5 linked regions of the Homo sapiens genome follow. The protein of the gene in region 3 purifies or fractionates together with the protein of the main gene of each other region. This does not show direct contact. Each region holds a gene or a part of one and is shown on either strand. Other genes may lie near its edges.

What was found.
Region 1: the proteins of ZC4H2 (region 3) and RLIM purify together in Homo sapiens (affinity purification with western blotting; one study listed by BioGRID). This does not show direct contact.
Region 2: the proteins of ZC4H2 (region 3) and DIDO1 purify together in Homo sapiens (affinity purification with mass spectrometry; one large-scale study listed by BioGRID and IntAct). This does not show direct contact.
Region 4: the proteins of ZC4H2 (region 3) and SLC25A31 purify together in Homo sapiens (affinity purification with mass spectrometry; one large-scale study listed by BioGRID and IntAct). This does not show direct contact.
Region 5: the proteins of ZC4H2 (region 3) and PARS2 purify together in Homo sapiens (affinity purification with mass spectrometry; one large-scale study listed by BioGRID and IntAct). This does not show direct contact.

What each region holds. Positions count from the first base shown.
Region 1 is NC_000023.11:74,604,282-74,608,268, reverse strand, and holds part of RLIM (E3 ubiquitin-protein ligase RLIM), read left to right. Parts: intron 1-3,987. UniProt on the Homo sapiens protein: E3 ubiquitin-protein ligase.
Region 2 is NC_000020.11:62,919,764-62,923,750, reverse strand, and holds part of DIDO1 (death-inducer obliterator 1), read left to right. Parts: intron 1-3,987. UniProt on the Homo sapiens protein: Putative transcription factor, weakly pro-apoptotic when overexpressed. Tumor suppressor. Required for early embryonic stem cell development.
Region 3 is NC_000023.11:64,920,647-64,924,633, reverse strand, and holds part of ZC4H2 (zinc finger C4H2 domain-containing protein), read left to right. Parts: intron 1-2,390; exon of another isoform or gene 2,391-2,645; coding exon 2,646-2,817; intron 2,818-3,987. UniProt on the Homo sapiens protein: Plays a role in interneurons differentiation. Involved in neuronal development and in neuromuscular junction formation.
Region 4 is NC_000004.12:127,771,109-127,774,792, forward strand, and holds the end of SLC25A31 (ADP/ATP translocase 4), read left to right. Parts: intron 1-1,535; coding exon of another isoform or gene 1,536-1,587; intron 1,588-2,277; coding exon 2,278-2,466; 3' UTR 2,467-3,184; downstream 3,185-3,684. UniProt on the Homo sapiens protein: ADP:ATP antiporter that mediates import of ADP into the mitochondrial matrix for ATP synthesis, and export of ATP out to fuel the cell.
Region 5 is NC_000001.11:54,761,724-54,765,781, reverse strand, and holds the start of PARS2 (probable proline--tRNA ligase, mitochondrial precursor), read left to right. Parts: upstream 1-1,258; 5' UTR 1,259-1,321; intron 1,322-4,058. UniProt on the Homo sapiens protein: Mitochondrial aminoacyl-tRNA synthetase that catalyzes the specific attachment of the proline amino acid (aa) to the homologous transfer RNA (tRNA), further participating in protein synthesis.

The sequences.
Region 1 (3,987 bases), 9.7 Mb from region 3:
TAGGTTATATCTTATTTACAGTTACAGATTCATAGAACTGGAAAGTACCTTGCAGATGGTTTAATCCAATACTCTAATATTGATGGAGACTTCTCTGGCACAAGAGGTTAAATGAATTGGCCAAATCCACATAACCAAGTTACAACCAAGACTGGATTTCAGTATCTCTTTTTTCCTTTCACAGAGCTGAGTTTCACCCTGCTACCCATGTGTAGAATAAAAAAAGATACCTGGTTGTTAGCAAATATTTTTCTGTTACAAATACCATAACATTTTAATTAAACATTCTATATATGAAGAATCCCCAACACTTTTGGTGCCTACATACGTAATGATATGATGGTACTTTTTGTTTTCTGGCCTTAAATTCAGCAGTTCTTTGTGATTTAACTTTTAAAAAACTGAATAAAGTATTTTTCATTTTGGTGATGGTATTTAACATTTTCTTCATTGACACAGATCACATGTCACTAGTTCTTAAAGGACTCCTTTATGAAGTTCTTTTTTGTTTTTTTTGTGTGTGTGTGTTTTTGGTGTGTGGTTTTTTGTTTGTTTGTTTTGAGACGGAGTCTCGCTCTGTCACCCAGGCTGGAGTGCAATGGCACGATCTCTGCTCACTGCAACCTCCACCTCCCAGGTTCAAGCAATTCTCCCACCTCAGCCTCCTGAGTAGCTGGGATTACAGGCACCTGCCATCATGCCTGGCAAATTTTTGTATTTTTGTAGAGACAGGGTTTCACCATGTTGGCCAGACTGCTCTTGAACTCCTGACCTCAGGTGATCCGCCCGCGTCGGCCTCCCGAAGTGTTGGGATTACAGGCATGAGCCACTGTACTCAGCCTCCTTTATGAGATTCTTGATGAAGCTCTGTTGCAAACAAAATGGATTGCCCTTCTCTTGTCAGTGTGACACATTTTTGTGTTCATACCCATAATTTTTTAAAAATTGGCATGTCCTGCTTTAGAACTTTATTATAGAATTTGGAGCTTGAATGAACACATATGCACAAGGTGAAATATTCAACATGATTTAGTAGTTAGTTGATGTTACGTTACCTTAATTCCTCCCTCCCACCCACCCCACTTTTTTTAAAAAACGAGGTAATTTCTTCCATATGACTTTTTAAATTTTGATATGGAGTCTCTGTCACCCAGACTAGACTGCTGTGACGTGATCTGAGTTCACTGCAACCTCTGCCCCCAAACTCAAGTGATCCTCCCACCTCAGCCACATCAGCTCCCAAGTAGCTAGGACCACAGATGCGCGTTACCATGCCCAGCTAAGTTTTTGTGTCTTTGGTAGAAACGGTTTCACCATGTTGCCCAGGCTGGTTTTGAACTCCCGGGCTCAAGCGATCCGCCGACCTCGACCTCCCAAAGTGCTAGGATTACAGATGTCGGCCACCACACTCGGCCAGCACCATGCCCAGCCAAGATGACTCACTTTTTAAAATTGGTTTTTACACAGGCATTTCACTTGGTGTTTCAGAATTTAGTTTTGTAAGGTCTGTTTTATTAACAGTATTTTTGGATGCCTTAAGTCTCCTTAATTGGGTACTATAATGTAGTGTGTCCATCAAATATAACATGCCTGTGTTTATACTTAGCACCAGGTCTCCTGACCTGTTAGTACTGAACAATATGTTTTAAATAACTTTTTGCCTTAACATTATAACAATTAAATTTTTTAAAAGTTTGGTGTGCATGGATTAGAAGAATTAAATGAGATACTACATTTAGCAGTAATCAGAAACAGTCATTTGCATAATTTATATTAATATATAATAATGACTAGAAGAAGTTGAGATTATTAACAATACTTTAAAATTCTCAAAGTGAATAAAATCTGTTTTAAATAAATCTCAGGGTTGGTGTTCTTGCTGGCCTTTCCTCCCCAGAATTAAACTTACTGGATACAGTCCCATTCATTGACCAGATGAGTAGCTCTTTGAAACGATTGGGCAAAATTTCTCATTTGGTTTCTTGTTTCCAGGAATGGATTTGGATATATTGGCACACAGTACTCTAAAAGAAATAAGGTTAATAAAATATGCTGTTTATCTAAGGAGCAACTGTATTTTTAAAAATTACTAAAAGTTGACTTATTTAAAAATAAGTCCATCTAGGTTTGTGCTGCTTACAAAAGGTGTTTTGTCATTTTGGAATTTTTCATACAGGGAGTGAACATGGTATAAAAAGCTCATAGATTGAATAGTTTAGTCATACCTATTGGGATTGAAGGAAGGAATGTGTTTTAAAGTATAGAGTCTTGGGATATGTTGGGAGGCAGTTGTCTTAGTGAAAAGTTGACTGGATTTGGAATGCAGAGACCTGGATTTAATTACTGGCCCTTTCCCACTTACTAGTCACATGGTTTTTGGTAAATCACTTTCTTTCTCTGTGCTTCTGTTTGTCACCTGTAGAGGTGGTGATTCCTAATTCATGGGATTATTGTGAAGATTAAATGAAATACAGGTGTAAGGGCTATGTAAATACAGGGTGATGAGTATTGCTTATAGCCAGAGAGAGACCTAAGTGACTTCAAAACAGTTATATTTCATTGTTTAAATTACTGTATGTTTCACGGGTAATCTTTTCATAGAAAAACAGCTGATGCTAATCATATGCTGAAGTCAGAATTTCTGACTTATCTGAGATAACTAAAGAAATGGATTTATGACCTTCTCTTTTACGATGATGTTGAAAGATCCCAGCGGTGTATAAGGATTCTCTTTTTCCTCTTGCTACTTAAGCTAGAAATGTACCACAATGTTACTCACTGCAAAGTAGAATCTGGAGACCTGTTTTGTTAATGTTATTCTTCACTAATATTTTCACACCCAAAATGGAGATAGAGCTGTATTTGATCATTTGGAGTATGGTTTTCTGGTATTTTTGGCATGCCTAAACTTTAAAATGTTTGTTTGCACTTAGTAAACAATAGTGGCAGATTATATCTACCTGGGGCAGAACTTGTGGTTTTTAGATTTATTCCATTTCTTTCTTTTATGCCGCTTAGATAGTGAAGGTCTGCTTAAAATAAGACCAGGCTCATTGGGTGTGTGAGAGTAAAATTAGTTTACAAGGCATTTGAGAGCATTGCCTTGATTTCCATTTTCTTTGCAAATGTAATTATGTCTAGTCCAGGGGACCTCTGCAGGTATTGTAGCCATAGCTTACTCTTTGAATTCCCTTATAAGGGAGGGAGTGCCTTGCCAGTGCTGAAATCTCTTGACCCCCAATTCCAGCCCAGGGGAAATGCTAAGTTAAGGCAGAAAGGATGGAGGCTTTGAAATAAGTGTGTTGCAGGAGTATCATGGGGAAAATATTTTCCTTGATTGTCTCTGGCATATATATGGAAGGGTAGCAGGAAAGGAGACAGCAGCATATTATTATTATTGAAGAGGTAGTGATTTGGATTTGTTCACATGTTGCTTTATGAGTGTGTCTCATTAAAATTTTGAATTAAATAAAATTTAGAATTCCCTCTTTCATGGAACGGAATCCAAGCTCATCAAGCAGGAGCTGTTTAGGATTCAAAAATCTCTGAAATCAGTGTCAGGAAAATTTTGAATGGAGGTAAAATGTTTTGTCTCTAGTTTCTATGTAGGAAATGGTAGAAATTCTAAAAGGTCAAGAATGAATCTTGAAGATTCATGAGCATAGGAAAGACTTATCTATCCCATGAGTATTGAACATTGTAGAGTATTGAACCTTATTGTTTTATTTTTGGAAAACATAAAGGGGATGCAAATAGTGGGTTTGTAGAGCATGAAAAATATATTGGGGACATTTGAAACTCTCCCTATTTGGGATTTCTCTATCTTACAAAGAAATACTTTAAAGCTGTGCTGCCCAATATGGTAGCCATTAACCACTATGTGACTGTTAGACACTTGAAATAAGACTAGTGAAACTGAAATTTTAAGTTTTTTTTTTATTTTAAGCTTAAAAAACTGAAGTAGTGTAAAATGTTTTTCCACTAAAC
Region 2 (3,987 bases), on a different chromosome or scaffold from region 3:
AACTTTTTTTCCAAAATGAAGATACCTTAATGTGTTTGATTACAAAAGTAATACACATACAGGAAACTTAAACATTATGTAAAAATAGAAAGTAAAGACACTAGAAAGGGTGCTGTCCAGAAAAGCTCCACGTTACAGCTGTTTTGCACTAGTGAACGGGATGCGTTGGAGGCTGTGGCCACTGCCCTGGCCGGCTTGTCTGCGGCTCTCACTCAGGTGCCAGGGAGTTTTTCTCACGGCTGTGCATGTGATGATTCATCACCCTTAAAGAATTCCCGGCCGGGCATGGTGGGTCGTGCCTGGAATCCCAGCACTTTGGGAGGCCAAGATGGGTGGATCACTTGTCAGGAGTTCAAGACCAGCCTGGCCAATATGGTGAAACCCCATCTCTAACTAAAAATACAAAAATTAGCTGGGTGTGGTGGTACGTGCCTGTAATCCCAGCTACTTGGGAGGCCGAGGTGGGAGAATCGCTTGAACCTGGGAGGTCGAGGTTGCAGTGAGCCGAGACCGCACCACTGCACTCCAGCCTGGGCGACAGTGAGACTCTGTCTCAAAAAAAAAATAATAATAATTAGGCCAAGCATGCTGATGTGCTCCTGTAGTCCCAGCACTTTGGGAGGCTGAGGCCAGAGGCCAGAGGACCCCTTGAAGCCAGGAGTTCCAGGCTGTAGTGAGCCGTGGTTCTGCTACTGCTCTCCAGCCTGGGTGACAGAGCAAGACTCTGTCCACCCCCCACCCCCAACAAAAAGAATTTCACTATATAGATGTTTCTTGATTTTTCAAACTGGTCTGTTAGTTTGTGTTCAGTTTGTCACCTTTGTGAGAAAAAAAACACTCATAAGTTAGTGTGTACTTCCTACTTAATTTCTCCTGGGTCATCGTGAAGCACTCCCTGCCCTCCATGAGAACAGTATGTCACCCGCTCTCTTCCCTGTGCCAAGCCCATAAAGGGCTGTTGGCAAATATGTCGGACAAATAGACTCGCCTAAGAGGGCCTTTCTCTCCAAGCCCTCGCCAGCACAGGCTGTGTCACTTTCTTAGGTGGCACCTACCGTCTGTTGCACACTTGCCGCAGATGATTTGGCACAGGATGTCGCTTCAGAAAACCTTGTAGGAAGCTGTGAGGTCGTTACCGTCCCCATTTCACAGACAGGAAAGTGCAGGCCTTAGATGCACTGCCTGATACCCTGTGGCCCCCGCGTTCCTAGACAGATACACTGCCTGGTACACTGTACCCCCCCACCCCCGCTATCGTTTGCAGCTGGGGTTGAACCCTGCATTCATAGACAGGTTCCCCCTTGAGTGAGCCCCCCATCTGCTTAACTGAGGGCTTGTCCTGGTTATAAATGTCTGGGTGGGGGTGGGCACTGCTGGCTGCAGCTGTCAGGACTGGGAATGCTGAACCTGCACTGAGGGGAGTAGGCCCCAGAGATGCTCCCAAGACCCTGGAGACACAGGCCAGGTAGACACCTGTGTGTGTGTGTATATATATGTGTGTGTGTGTATATATATATATGTGTGTGTGTGTATATATATGTACATATATATATACACACACACACACATACATATAAAAGAGCCGGGCATTGTTTGTGTGTGTGTGTGTGTATATATGTATATATGTGTGTGTGTGTGTGTATATATATAGTGTGTATATATAGTGTGTATATAGTGTATATAGTGTGTGTATATATATATTGTGTGTATATATATCGTGTGGATATATATTGTGTGGATATATATATAGTGTATATATATTGTGGACATATGTATAGTGTGTATATATATTGTGGACATATATAGTGTATATATATTTTGGACATATATAGTGTATATATATTGTGGATATATATATAGTGTGTATATATATTGTGGATATATATATAGCGGGTATATGTAGTGGATATATATAGTATATATATATTGTGGATATACACACACACACAATAGCTGGGCATTGTAGTGCATGCTTGTAGTCCCAGTTACTCAGGAGGCTGAGGTAGAAGGATAACCTGAGCCCAGGGAGATTGAGGCTGCAGTGAGCCGTGATCAGTCGCTCCATTGCCCTCCAGCCTGGGCGACAGAGACCCTGTCTCCAAAAAAAAAAAAAAAAAATTGGCTGCAGCTCCAATTTGAGAAGCAAATTCTTGTGAGAGAAGGGTTTTTAAAGAAGAAACCCCATTCTCTCCACCTGAACTTAGGGTGGCCATCATCTCACTTGGCAATCCCTGCCTGGTCAGTAATCACATGAAACTGAATGAGAGTAGACAGGGTGTCTGGAAAAAGTGAATGCTAAAGCAGTACCTGTCACTGCCACTAGGATCCTGACTGAACCGGAATGGCCTCGGGGAGCAGCCTTTCAGGCTCCAGCAGTGGAAGGCGCTGCTGTGTCAGCGGTTACCAGACTGGCAGGACCCAGGACTGCTTTACACTCCTAAAAAGCAGGGAAGACCCCAAAGAGCTTTTGTTATATCTATTGATAGTCACCATGTTTGACATTTAAAAATGAGTCATTTAAATGCTGAAGTGCCTTCTATTTAAAATTGGAAACCAGCCGGGCACGGTGGCTCATGCCTGTAATCCTAGCACTTTGGGAGGCCAAGGTGGGCGGATCACCTGAGGTCAGGAGTTCAAGACCAGCCTGGCCAACATGGTGAAACCCTTTCTCTACTAAAGACACAAAAAAAATAACTCGGCATGGTGGCACACGCCTGTAATCCCAGCTACTCGGGAGGCTGAGGCAGGAGAATCCCTTGAACCCAGGAGGCGGAGGTTGCAGTGAGCTGAGATCGTGCCACTCCACTCCAGCCTAAGTGAGAGCGAGACTCCATCTCAAATAAATAAAGTAAAATTGTAAACCATTATATATTAACATAAGTAAACCATTTAGTGGAACCTGTTTTCAATGACGAAAACAATGAGAAAGATGGTTTTGTTTTCACAAATCTGTTTGGCTTAACTGACAGCTTCTGGATTCTCCTTCCGAATTCAAACTTAGTGTCTCCGTTCAGCTTCTGAAATGCTCTAGCATATACTCAGAGTGGCTGTGGAAACAGCATGGAATGTTGGTGTTGTGCAGACTGCTTTGATCCGGGGGCCTCCCAAAAGGACCCCTGGACCACGCTTTGAGAACCACTTCTCTAAGAGTTGTAAAATAGCTCTAAACACTTGGGGAAATTGATTACTTTTAGGAAGATAAGCTGTGTCTTTGAACAATTTTTAGTGGCTCAACCATGTGCTTGCCCCTTGGGGCAAGTGTGGAATCAATCTGATGCGCTGTCACCGGTAAAGCTGTTCCAGTACACACCTCTCCCTCAAAGTGCCCTACACAGCCCCTTGCTGAATCCTTTGCAGCAGTGAAAATCGGGGGTTGGGGGGAGGCAAGAGTAGGCTGTGCTTGGGGCCATGGAATTATGCAGGTCTCTAAGGGTGTGGACCGAGGAGAACATAAAGGAACAGTGATTTAAACCTGTAATAAACAGATGCCCTTGAGGGGAAGCAGCCCCCACAGTACCCTGCTGGGATGACCTCCCGCAGCGCACCCCACTCACATGGTACCCGGGGAGCTCACACTGCCACACTTGCGGCATGAGGTGGATTTCTTCATGGGGATAAGAACCTGTGCATTGTGGTCCTCACCAGGGCCCAAGTGGTAATCTTTTATTAAGAGCAACAGGAATCCTGGTATGTAGAATTGGGACCGTATCTTAAGTGTTTGAAACCATACTTTCTTTTTTACTGAGACAAGAGGAGTCCATCAAAGGTAGTGGTTTAGGAGACTTTATGTCCAGCCATTAAATAGAGAACAATAAACCTCACTTCTCCTTCACCTCGATAAATGATTTTATGTGACTGTTTCTGGTTCCTGGCATTCATTTGGAGAGTTGAAATTTCCCACCTGAGTTGCCCACCAAGGTCACCAGCCTGTGTTTTGCACTAGGAAGTAGATAGAGGGAAATGGCAGGATTGTTGCAAGCTCACATG
Region 3 (3,987 bases):
CATCCTCAGTTCTCAGGGAAGCCTCCTCTGACTGTCCCCTTTACCCTATAGTGTCCCTCAGACTATGTTAGGTCCCTTTGTTGTATCCTTCTATCACATTCTGCATCTCCTCCCTACCACTAATATGATTTTACATACAACCTTGTGTTCAGGATCGATTTTCTTCATTAGATGAAACTTGCTGTCTATATACTGTCTTGTTCTCTGCTCTATCCCTAGTACCTAGTACAATGAATGCCTGGCACATGATAAGTATTCAATAAATAATTATTGACTGAATATATATTGAAACCCTCTATAATTAATACATAGTAAGTGCTCAATAAATATAGTTAAAATACAGTTGTTATTATTGTCCAAAAGCAAATAGTTAATCAGAGGCAGAACCAGGATTTATAATTGAAGTCTGAGTCTAAAGCGCATGCTTCTTTTATGATATGACTTTGTCTGCAGAAATAGGTTCTTGGCCCAGCACTGCCCTAACTGGTTGTATGACACTTAGGGTGAGACACTATACTACTCTGAATCTTAGTTTTCCCATCGGTAAAATGGTTACAGGAGCAGGCAAAGTTCAGGTTTATCTTCACGTAACCTAGAAAAGGAGGAGAATAGAAGTCTAGATAGATGGGGATATAAGCAAATAAGTAATTAACCAATACAAATCAGTATCTTCCCTCTGCAAGACAGTTGATGAGCTATAACAAGAACCCTTGATGTTTTTATGCCCTTCAGCCTGGTAACCCTGTTCAAAGGCAATATAGAGTAGTGGATGGTATGGATGGTATGTAGGCTTTGGTGTTAGAGAGCCCTGGTTCAAATCCCAACATCCAATTTACTAGCTCTGTGGTACTGGGCAAGTTACCACCCTGAACCTCACTCAATTCCCTTCTCTACAAATGGGATAACACCCACCTTTTAACCCATTTCTAAGGTTACAAAAAAAAAAAAAATACAATAACATGAAAAGATGTTTTCTTAGTATAGAAAGAGAAACTTCTCCCACCATCCTACCCACCTAACAGTTCTTTCTGTAGTTCTGTGCCATTGAAGGCTACCTCTTGAGGCAAGAGGCACAGGCAATGTCAAGAAAAGAGAGACTGAAGACAAGCAGGCTGATGGCAGAAGCCAGAGTCCAGTGTGTGGAGTTGGATCACCCATAGGATAGACTGGGGCAGAGGGGAAGATCAGCTACTGAGGGAGAAGAAAGGAGACTACAAATCTGAGTAAGGGGATAATGGCTAGGCAGATCCTGAGAAGCATGGTAGGGAGCCAGTGGGAAGACAACAACATGCCTTAGAGGGTACCCCTTTCAAAACTTTGTAGCCCTTTCCCAGAGGCAGGCTTCAAATTATGTTATTAAAGGCCCTTGAAACTGTGTTTCTTCCAAATCTTTTTCTTATTTAGTCACATCCATGTATGTTTTGAAATTGTAATCTTAGTGTGTACACTTTTTCAGCGAGTATCTTATCTTCAACATTTTCTATGTCACAAGTCTTCAGTGGCTGTCAAATATCCTAATTTTGCTGAAAGCCCAGAAAGTACACCTCTGTGTATTAACTTTTTGCTTCCTTGAATTACCTCCTTAAAATATATTCCCAAGTATAGGATTCCTGAGCCACACGGTATACAATTGGGATTTAATGACCAAAACCAGGTTTTTCTTTTTCTAAGAAAGAAATTACCCATAATATCCTTTCCCCTTCCTTTTCTGGAACTGATAAACACACCCTCTAGAGTTGTGCTGTCTAATATGACAGCCAGTAGCCACACGTGGCTGTTTAAATTTTAAGTTTGATTAAATAAAATTCAAAACTCAGTTCCTCAGTAGCACTGGCCACATCACAAGTGCTCAGTAGCCATATGTGCATAGTGGCTATTATACTGGACAGCACAGATACAAAACATTTCCATCACTGTAGTAAGTTTATTGGACAGTGCTTACTTAGAGTTTCTCAAGAGATCATTTTTGGTTTCTTGGGTGGGAGTTCTTTGTGTTCAGGACTTTCCTGGGCATTGAGAGGCTATTTAGCATCTCTGGCCCATGTCCACTAAATGCCAGTAACACATTTCCTTGAGTCAATCTAACAGCCAAAACACTCCATATTTGCAAATGCCCCATAAGGGAACAAAATTAACCCCATTCGAGACCCACTGAGCTTTTAGAGGGAAACATCTCCTAACTTTTTCTTGAGACAAGGTCTTGCTCTGTCACCTAGGTTGGAGTGCAGTAGTGCAATCATAGCTTAAGCAATCCTCCTGCCTTATCCTCCTGAGTAGTTGAGACTACTGGCATGTACCACCATGTGTGGCTAATTCTTTCTTTCTTTCTTTCTTTTTCTTTTTCTTTTTCTTTTTTTTTTCTTTTTTCTTTTTCTTTTTTTTTTTTGTAGATATAAGGTCTCACTATGTTGCCCATGCTGGTTTCAAACTCCTGGGCTCAAGTGATCCTCCTGCCTCTGTCTTCCAAATTGCTGAGATTACTGGCATGAGCCATTGCACCTGGCCTTCTTTTTTGAGATGGCCTCAGGTTGGCTCTGCCTGGAGAGGGGGAAGCTTGTAAAGATGGCTTAGAAAAAAAGTCCTGGCTCCATTTCTATTTTCTCCCTTCTTTTGCTGGCCTGTTTCCTGCTTTTTGCAAATTGCAGGAACAAGACCCTGCAGATGGAGAAGATCAAGGCTCGTTTGAAGGCTGAGTTTGAGGCACTTGAGTCAGAGGAAAGGCACCTGAAGGAATACAAGCAGGAGATGGACCTTCTGCTACAGGAGAAGATGGCCCATGTGGAGGAACTCCGACTGATCCACGCTGACATCAATGTGGTACGTGGCTGCCTGGAGCCTATCTCTAAAGCCTTTGAGAAAGAGGTAGTGGTGAATGATAGGGCCTTTCCTTGAGATGTGGCTTAGGCCTAGCTCGGGGAGCAGGCATCAGTGCAGGCTGTGGTAGAGCAGAAGAATTCAGGAGTTCTGAGATCCAGCCCTGGCTCTGTCACTAACTGACTATATATCACTGGACAAGTCCCTTCTCTCTGGGCCTCATTTTCCCTCTCTGCACTATAAGGGGGACTCAGTACCCTCTAAATGTACTGATTTGATGTGCTCTCATTCTGGGATTCTGGGAGTTGAGAGCTAGCCTTGGGGAAAAGCAGAGCAGGCAGCTGCCTCTGGAATGTAGTTTAAAGCACTCCAAGCTTTCAGTCAGACCAAACAAATCATTTCTGCCTGCTACCAAAGTGGAGCTTCCTCATTGATATATCCTTTGGAAACTCTTGGAACACAGAATATGAACTGTCTGCTAAGGTGGTAAGCTCCCCTCTTTGGAATTATTCAAGCAGCATCTTAATGGACACTTGTATGAGCTACTGTACTGATGATTCCTTCACAAGGAAGGAGGTTGGCAGTGCTGACCAGTAAGGTCTTTTCAAACCCTTATCACCCATAACCATGAAGAATATATTTTTAAAATTTACTTTCAAAGGAACTAAGTTTATATTTCTGGAAAACTCATTTCTGTGGCAATACTCATTTTCTGATGTTGTCAGACCTAGGATCATAAAGGAAATATGAATGAGGTTTGGACAGTAAGCAATTGGGATTTTCTGTGTTAGAGATCGCAGAATTCTAGATCTCATAAAGTGTTGACAGTTTGGCTGCCAGCTAACCAATGATACAGGGCCAGTTAAATGAGGAAGATATTTGCCAGAAGGGCTAAGAATATAAGCCAGTGGATCTCAAACTTGAGCATGCATCAAAGCCACTTTGAGAGCCTAAGACACATATTGCTAGACTCCACCCCTGATTTTCTGATTTTGTATGTCTGAGGTGAACCTAAGAATATGCATTTCTGAGTTCCCAGGTGATGCTGATGCTGCTGATCCCTTGGCCACATTTTGAGAATCACTGATCTAGGAGAAAAGACTGCTGGCCTGGGAGGCGGAAGCCCTAAGTCTTTATGCAGGATTTGATACTAAGAAGTATTTCCCCAGGAAA
Region 4 (3,684 bases), on a different chromosome or scaffold from region 3:
GCCACACCCAGCTAATTTTTTGTATTTTAGTAGAGACAGGGTTTCACCATTTTGCCCAGGCTGGTCTCGAACTCCTGAGCTCAGGCAATCCACCCACCACAGCCTCCCGAAGTGGTAGGATTACAGGCCTGAACCACCACGTCTGGCCTGTTCCCCTTTTTATAAGGACAGTCATATTGGCTTAGGGTTCACTCTTGTGATCTCATTTAATTCTAATTACCTTTAAAGACCCTATCTCCAAATACAGTCACATTCTGAGGTACTGGGAGTTATTAGGATTTCAATATATGATTTTAACAATTCAGCCCATAACAGTACTACTTAATTTTTGTGTATTTCATTTTACATCCCACAACTTTGTTAACCCTATTACAAACACGAATGTGTATGTACATACCTTCCAAATTTTTATTTACATGAACAGGCATATAATCTGCAACTAATATCAGTGTTTTCTTCCTTCCTTATCAATTCTTACACCTTTTATTTCTCTTTCTTGCCTTTCTGTACTCACTGAGACCCCGGATTCAGTGTTATATTTACAAAGTAGTAACTGGCAACCTTATCTTGTTCCTAATCATACAGAAAATGACGTCAGTGTTACATAATTTAATATTAACTGTGGGGGTTTTTTGTCATTATCATTTATCATGTAATGACAGTTCCTTTCTGTTCCTGGATTACAACAATTTTTAATTATGAATGGCAGTCATGTTCTTTCTGTATCTGCTGAGATGATTAAACCTTTTTTTCTTTTAATATGTTTACATATTGTGTTAAATTAATCTGTTTTCTAGAGCTAACTCTTGTATGCCTGGGATAAACCCAGTTTGCAAGTATTGTATTCTGTAGCACTTGCTAGATTTGATTGCTGGGTTTTGTTCAGGATTTTTGCATCCATGTTTAATGACACTGGCTTGTATTTTTCCTTCTTGTATTGCTCTAGTATGACTTCAGTAGCAAGTCTGTGCAAGCCTCATAAAATACGTTGAGGAGTCATCCCACTTTTTCTCTCCTCTAGAATAATTTCTGAAAGATTGGAATTAAACGTTCATTGAATGTTTAGCAGAACTCACATGTAAAGCCTTTTGGACATGTGGTTTTCTTTATGAGAAGATATTCAACAACTGATTGAATTTTTAACAACTATAGTATTATTCCAGTTCTTTTCTACTCTGTTGGTAAATTATACTTTTCTAGGAATTTATCCATTTCTTATGACTTAAAAATAATTGTCATGAAGTTTTTTATGACATCATCTTGCTCTTAAATTTCTGGATCATCTGCATTTTTGTTACCGTTGCCATTTCTGATAATCTTGGGGCCTTTTCTCTTTTTTCCTCAAACAATATTTCCAAACTCTGTCAGCAAAGTATTTCAAAGACCTAACTGGACTTTTTTTGTGCTGTTGTGTGTGTTTTCTATTTCCTTTATTTCTGCCAGTTATTTTCTTGTTTTTACTTTCTTTAGGTTTATACTTTGTCTAAAAATGTTTAGGTTGCTCATTAACTTTTAGCCTTTTCTAATATTTCAAGGTCATTAATTTCCTTATAAATTACAACTCGAAGCTGCATCTTAAAAATTTAGGTAAGAGGTTTTGTAATTATCATTTGGTTTTCAGTATTTTCTGAGAAGAAGTGTTCTTAACATCCCAACATATGATTTCTTTTTTTTTTTCTTTTTTTTTTTTTGAGACAGGGTCTTACCCTGTCACTTAGGCTAGAGTGCAATGGTGTGATCATGGCTCACTGCAACTTTGACCTCCCAGGCTCAGGTGATCCTCCCACTTCAGCCTCCCGGGTAGCTGGGACCACAGGCATGTGCCAGCACACCCAGCTAATTTTTTGTATTTTTTGTTGAGATGGCATTTTTCCATATTGCCCAGGGTGGTCTCAAACTCTTGGGCTCAAGCGATCTTCCTGTCTCGGCCTCCCAAAGTGCTGAGATTACAGGCATGAGCCACCATGCCTAGCCCATATGGTATTTTTCTATTTTGCTATTGATTTCTCAGTTAATTGCAGTGCTGTGAGAGGATAAATCATGGTCTATGTGATGACATCCTTTGACATTTGTTAACGCCTAATGTATGGTCAGTTTTCAAGTGTGCCTGAAAAGTATGAATGTTCTCTAACCACCAGGGACAGTAGCCATATATGCCTATTAACACAGTGCTACTCAACACAGTGTTTATCTTATCTATCCTTAGTGCTAATAGAAGACTGTCTTAAGATAAAAGATATTCAGATAATGGAAAACCCTTTGTTTTTCTTTGTATAGAGTGGTGAGGCTAAACGGCAATATAAAGGAACCTTAGACTGCTTTGTGAAGATATACCAACATGAAGGAATCAGTTCCTTTTTTCGTGGCGCCTTCTCCAATGTTCTTCGCGGTACAGGGGGTGCTTTGGTGTTGGTATTATATGATAAAATTAAAGAATTCTTTCATATTGATATTGGTGGTAGGTAATCGGGAGAGTAAATTAAGAAATACATGGATTTAACTTGTTAAACATACAAATTACATAGCTGCCATTTGCATACATTTTGATAGTGTTATTGTCTGTATTTTGTTAAAGTGCTAGTTCTGCAATAAAGCATACATTTTTTCAAGAATTTAAATACTAAAAATCAGATAAATGTGGATTTTCCTCCCACTTAGACTCAAACACATTTTAGTGTGATATTTCATTTATTATAGGTAGTATATTTTAATTTGTTAGTTTAAAATTCTTTTTATGATTAAAAATTAATCATATAATCCTAGATTAATGCTGAAATCTAGGAAATGAAAGTAGCGTCTTTTAAATTGCTATTCATTTAATATACCTGTTTTCCCATCTTTTGAAGTCATATGGTATGACATATTTCTTAAAAGCTTATCAATAGATGTCATCATATGTGTAGGCAGAAATAAGCTTTGTTCTATATCTCTTCTAAGACAGTTGTTATTACTGTGTATAATATTTACAGTATCAGCCTTTGATTATAGATGTGATCATTTAAAATTTGATAATGACTTTAGTGACATTATAAAACTGAAACTGGAAAATAAAATGGCTTATCTGCTGATGTTTATCTTTAAAATAAATAAAATCTTGCTAGTGTGAATATATCTTAGAACAAAAGGTATCCTCTTGAAAATTAGTTTGTATATTTTGTTGACAATAAAGGAAGCTTAACTGTTATAAAGGAGTCTTTTTTTCCCTGACTCTGACTTTATTAGTAAGCAGAGTATAGCAAAATTTTTGTCAGAACTGGCTTAACTAAAGAGAGAGGTATTTCTCAATGGACAGATATAAACAGCATTCCAAGGTTTTGTACGGGAGTTTGTCTTGTTTTTCAGAGCTGTTGTAGAATACAGTATATTTGAAATCCCCAAGTTTTTAACGTTCTAATGAGTAAAGGGATGTTAAGCTAGTGGGGATAAACTATAGACGGATTTTCTGAGGCTGTGAATGGGCAAAATGGGGTGGAGGAACTTCCTTATGCACAGGGACAAAGCGTATTTCAAGGACAATAATACAGACCATACTTTTAAATATATTGGTGTTATCCCTCAAGAGGAAAAAAAGTCAAACTCTAAACATCATTTCTTGCAGTGGTCAACATAATGGAGTTACAGGAACAAAATAGAAAATATTTTCCTTTCCTGCTGCACTATCAAATGGTTCAAAGAAAGATGGTT
Region 5 (4,058 bases), on a different chromosome or scaffold from region 3:
CTGGAAATTTCTTCCCCTGCAAGGCTCTGTCTCTCACCCCCTTCTGGTCTTTGCTAAAAACGCCACCTACTTGATGAGGTTTTTCCTGATCCTCCTATTTTAAATTGCAAACACTTGGCTGGGCGCGGTGGCTCACACCTATAATCCCAACAGTTTGGGAGGCCGAGGTGGGTGTATCACCACCTGAGGTCAGGAGTTCAAGACTAGCCTAGCCAATATGGTGAAACCCCATCTCTACTAAAAATACAAAAAGTAGTCGGACGTGGTGGGCACCTGTAATCCCAGCTACTCGGGAGGTTGAGGCAGAAGAATTGCTTAAACCCGGGAGAAGGAGGTTGCAGTGAGCCGAGAACGCGCCATTGTACTCCAGCCTGGGCGACAAGAGCAAAACTCCGTCTCAAAAAAACAAAGAAAAAAATTGCAAACACTTAACTCCCCCACTCCATTCTCCTTCTCTAATTTTTTCTTTATAGCCCTTATCACCATCTGACTGACAGATTCTTTTAAATTTTGATATTTTGTTTGCCATGGATTTTTTGCATTTTGTTTTTTTAAAAAAACAATTGTATTAAAATACTGTTTATCTTGGTTACTGAGTTCTTTGCTCCCATTCCCTGCCCTGCTTAAATTTCGCTCTATTGGTTTATTGACTGTGTCCTCTCTAGAACACAAGCTACACTGAACGCAGTTAATTTTGTCTGTTTGGTTCACTTCACTGTCCCCAGTGTCTACAGCAGTGGCTTCTACGTGGTAGCAGCTCAAAAAATATTTTGTGAATGGAAGTTTGAATCTGTGTCTTAAAGACTGTCTTGGGCACTGTAATAAAGGCGTCTTTCTCAAACTGTTTCACAATTTTATACTATTTAAATGGAAAGCCCGTAAAAATCATAGGATAGATTAGAAACTACACTGCCCAGTGTGTCGTCATGGTTACACTGTCGCCAGTGGTTCTCCTATTGGGGGAGTGGGCGGGGCCTGGCAGGGGCAGGAAGAGCACCCTCAAGTCATCATAGAGTTATACCTCCCAAGTTCCTAGAAAGTACTTCCGGAACGGTGATTTACTCAAGGCTGCCCTGGCCAATCAACGATCTTGGGGAAAGCCGGGTACTCGCTCTTTGGCTACACTTCCGGAAAACCTCTCACGCGCGCCTAGCGTGGGGCGGGGCCAGAGCGCCCCTGCCCTCGGCCCCGCCTCCGTGAGCGCGGCTTTGCAATTGGCGAAAAGGGCAGGAGGCGGGGCTTAGGAGCGGGCTTGCTCGAGGCGCAAGCGCGCTGGCCCGGCACGGCGGTGGTCTTGCGGGAGGCGTGGGCTGGGATTGCGGTAGGTGAACGTGGGTGACTCCCAGACCTGAGGGACGGGCGCGGGCAGCGAAATGAAGCGAGCACGCGGTGTGGGCGCGGAGACCTAGGACCCTGGTGTCCGTTTTCCCACTTGCATCCCGTCCTTGAGTTGGGGCGGGCGAGAATCCCATAAACTTTTCGATACTCCTGGTCTCCGTGTCCTCCGTTGTAAAATGAGGGCAGCACTTCCTGGTCTCTCCCTCGGTCGTCGTGAGAGTCACACAGTTCTCGAAGTGCCAGCTCTGGAAAGGCCCTGGGACCACCTGCTGCCTGAGCCAGCCTTCCCGTTTTATGTTGGAGAAAACGGAGGTCCGGGGCGAAGTGAGTGGTCCAGGGTCACCGAGCGAGTGAAGGCCGAGCTTGTTCTTAGAACTAGGCCTAGGGTTCCATTGCTGTTTAATGTAGCACAGTTCGTGATGGAAACTGTAGGATTTGGAGGCGGGGACCTTGCCTTCCAGGCCCGACCCTGCGCTTATTTGCTGTGTGGCTTGACACAAGTGACTTTATATTTCAGAGCCTCCCTTTTCTGAGTTGGGCATAATAATAATAATAATAGCACTTTGTGAGACTTAATATTATGTATCAGGTACGGTTGTAAACGCTTTAGGTACAACTTTTCTGATTAGATTGGGGGGCAATGGTGAGTCAAAGAATCTTTAAAAAGGCCTGGGCTGGAAGGGCTGACAGTGTCCCGACAGAGTAGGTACTCAAAAAAATCGACTGAATGTCTCAGAGGCTGTTTGCCAGAGCCTGAAGTGTTGCATACGTTAGTTACTGTATTGCTCCTGAAAAACTGAGATAATTCTACTTATTCTCCTGTTTGTATAAGCTGAGGGGTCTGAGGACAGACATGCTAAACGTGGAGGAGAAGAGTTTAAAGCTCTCGTTTAAATTATCCAGATAATTATATCATTGCACCTGTTTGCTTTGCTCTTAATTTATTAACATATTTGATCAACAGATAATAATAGCCTAAATAGTAGGCATTATGCGAGACTCTGAAATTTAAAGATGTATAAAACTTCATAAACTTGTAATTTCATCAAGGAATAGAATGTTAAACATCGACACTGACCTCCCCTCCTGGCCCCCGTACACACCCCCAGAAAGAAAAAAAATTGTATGTGAAACACCATTCGCTTCCAATGCCTGGCACACAATAGTTCCTCAAAAATATTTTTGGAGATGATTCTAATACAGTATACTAAAAAGAGGTGTGTGCAGTGGAGCACAGAGGAGGTGACTTTCTCTGTTTAGAGGGGTTGGAGAAAGTTTCTTGGAGTAAGTGAACCTTGAATTCCAGTTGGAATTGCTGGGGGTTGGGGGGAGGTCAGTCTGTTTCAAGAATAATGAGCAACTTGGGGAATGCTAGGATAAGAAGCTGGAAGAGGTGTGTTGGGATCAAAATGTGAAGAGCTTTGGTGCCATTCTGAGAAAATTATGAGAGCCAGCCGTTAATGGATTGTAAACAGGGGAGTGATTGGGTCAGCTATCTTTTTAGCTGGAGACTAATACGGAGACTGGACTGACAGGGTTCAAGAATTACTCCATTCATTCATTGATAGAACATGTATTGAGCCTGGGCACAGTGGCTCACACCTATAATCCCAGCAATTTGGGAAGCTGAGGCAGGTGGATCGCATGAGGCCAGGAGTTCAAGACCAGCCTGGGCAACATAGCAAGACTCCATCTCTATTTTTTAAGAAAGAAAAAAAGGAACATGTTATTGAGTGTCCACTGTGTCCAGGCACTGTGCTGAATGCTGCAGATAAAACTTGGAATAAAATAGACATAGCTGTCGTCTTCATGGAGTTTAAGACATTAGTCATTGGTGGTACACAGCTAGACCCCTGCAGTGGTTCTCCCAGTGGGGTCCCTGGACCAGCAGCATCTGTGTCACCTGGGAACTTGTTAGAAATACAGGTTCTCTGCCCACACCCCAAACTTACTAAATGAGAAGCTCTGGAGATGGGCCTCTGCAATCACTGTTTTAACAAACCCAACCGGGCATGGTGGCTCACGCCTGTAATCCCAGCACTTTGGGAGGCCGTGGCGGGCTGATCACTTGAGGTCAAGGAGTTTGAGACCAGCCTGGCCAACATGGTGAAACTCTGTCTGTACTAAAAATATGAAAAATAGTTGGGCATGGTGGCACATGCCTGTAATTCCAGCTACTCAGGAGGCTGAGGCAAGAGAATCTCTTGAGGCTGGGGGTACGGAGGTTGCAGTGATCTGACATTGCACCACTGCACTCCAGCCTGGGTGATAGAGTGAACTCTGTCTCTAAAAAAAAAAAAAAAAAAACAAGCCCTCCAGCGATTCTGATGCTCAATTAGATTTCAGAACCACTGGGTAACTGTAATGTAGCAAGTGGTATTGAGGGGCTAACCTAATGTTGAGGCAGTAAGGGCCAGAAAGGAGGGGGTGGACTTAAGGGAAACCTTGAGACAGACTCATTTGCTTTAGGAGGAATCAAGGATGAGTTTCTGGCTGGAGCCACTGCCCTAAGTAAGGTTGGATCACAAGGAAGTTATAGAGCCAGGGGTGAATCCACATGTGCCTTGCCTCCATGGCCCGTACGTTCCTACAACACCACACTAGGGCTCTGTGGCAGTGCCTGACCACCTTTAAACATTTGTACAGTGCACAGGGGAAATGAATGAGGCTGCTTGAGGTTGGAGGGGACAAGCTGGAGGACCTGAGGCTGCTAGAGGTAA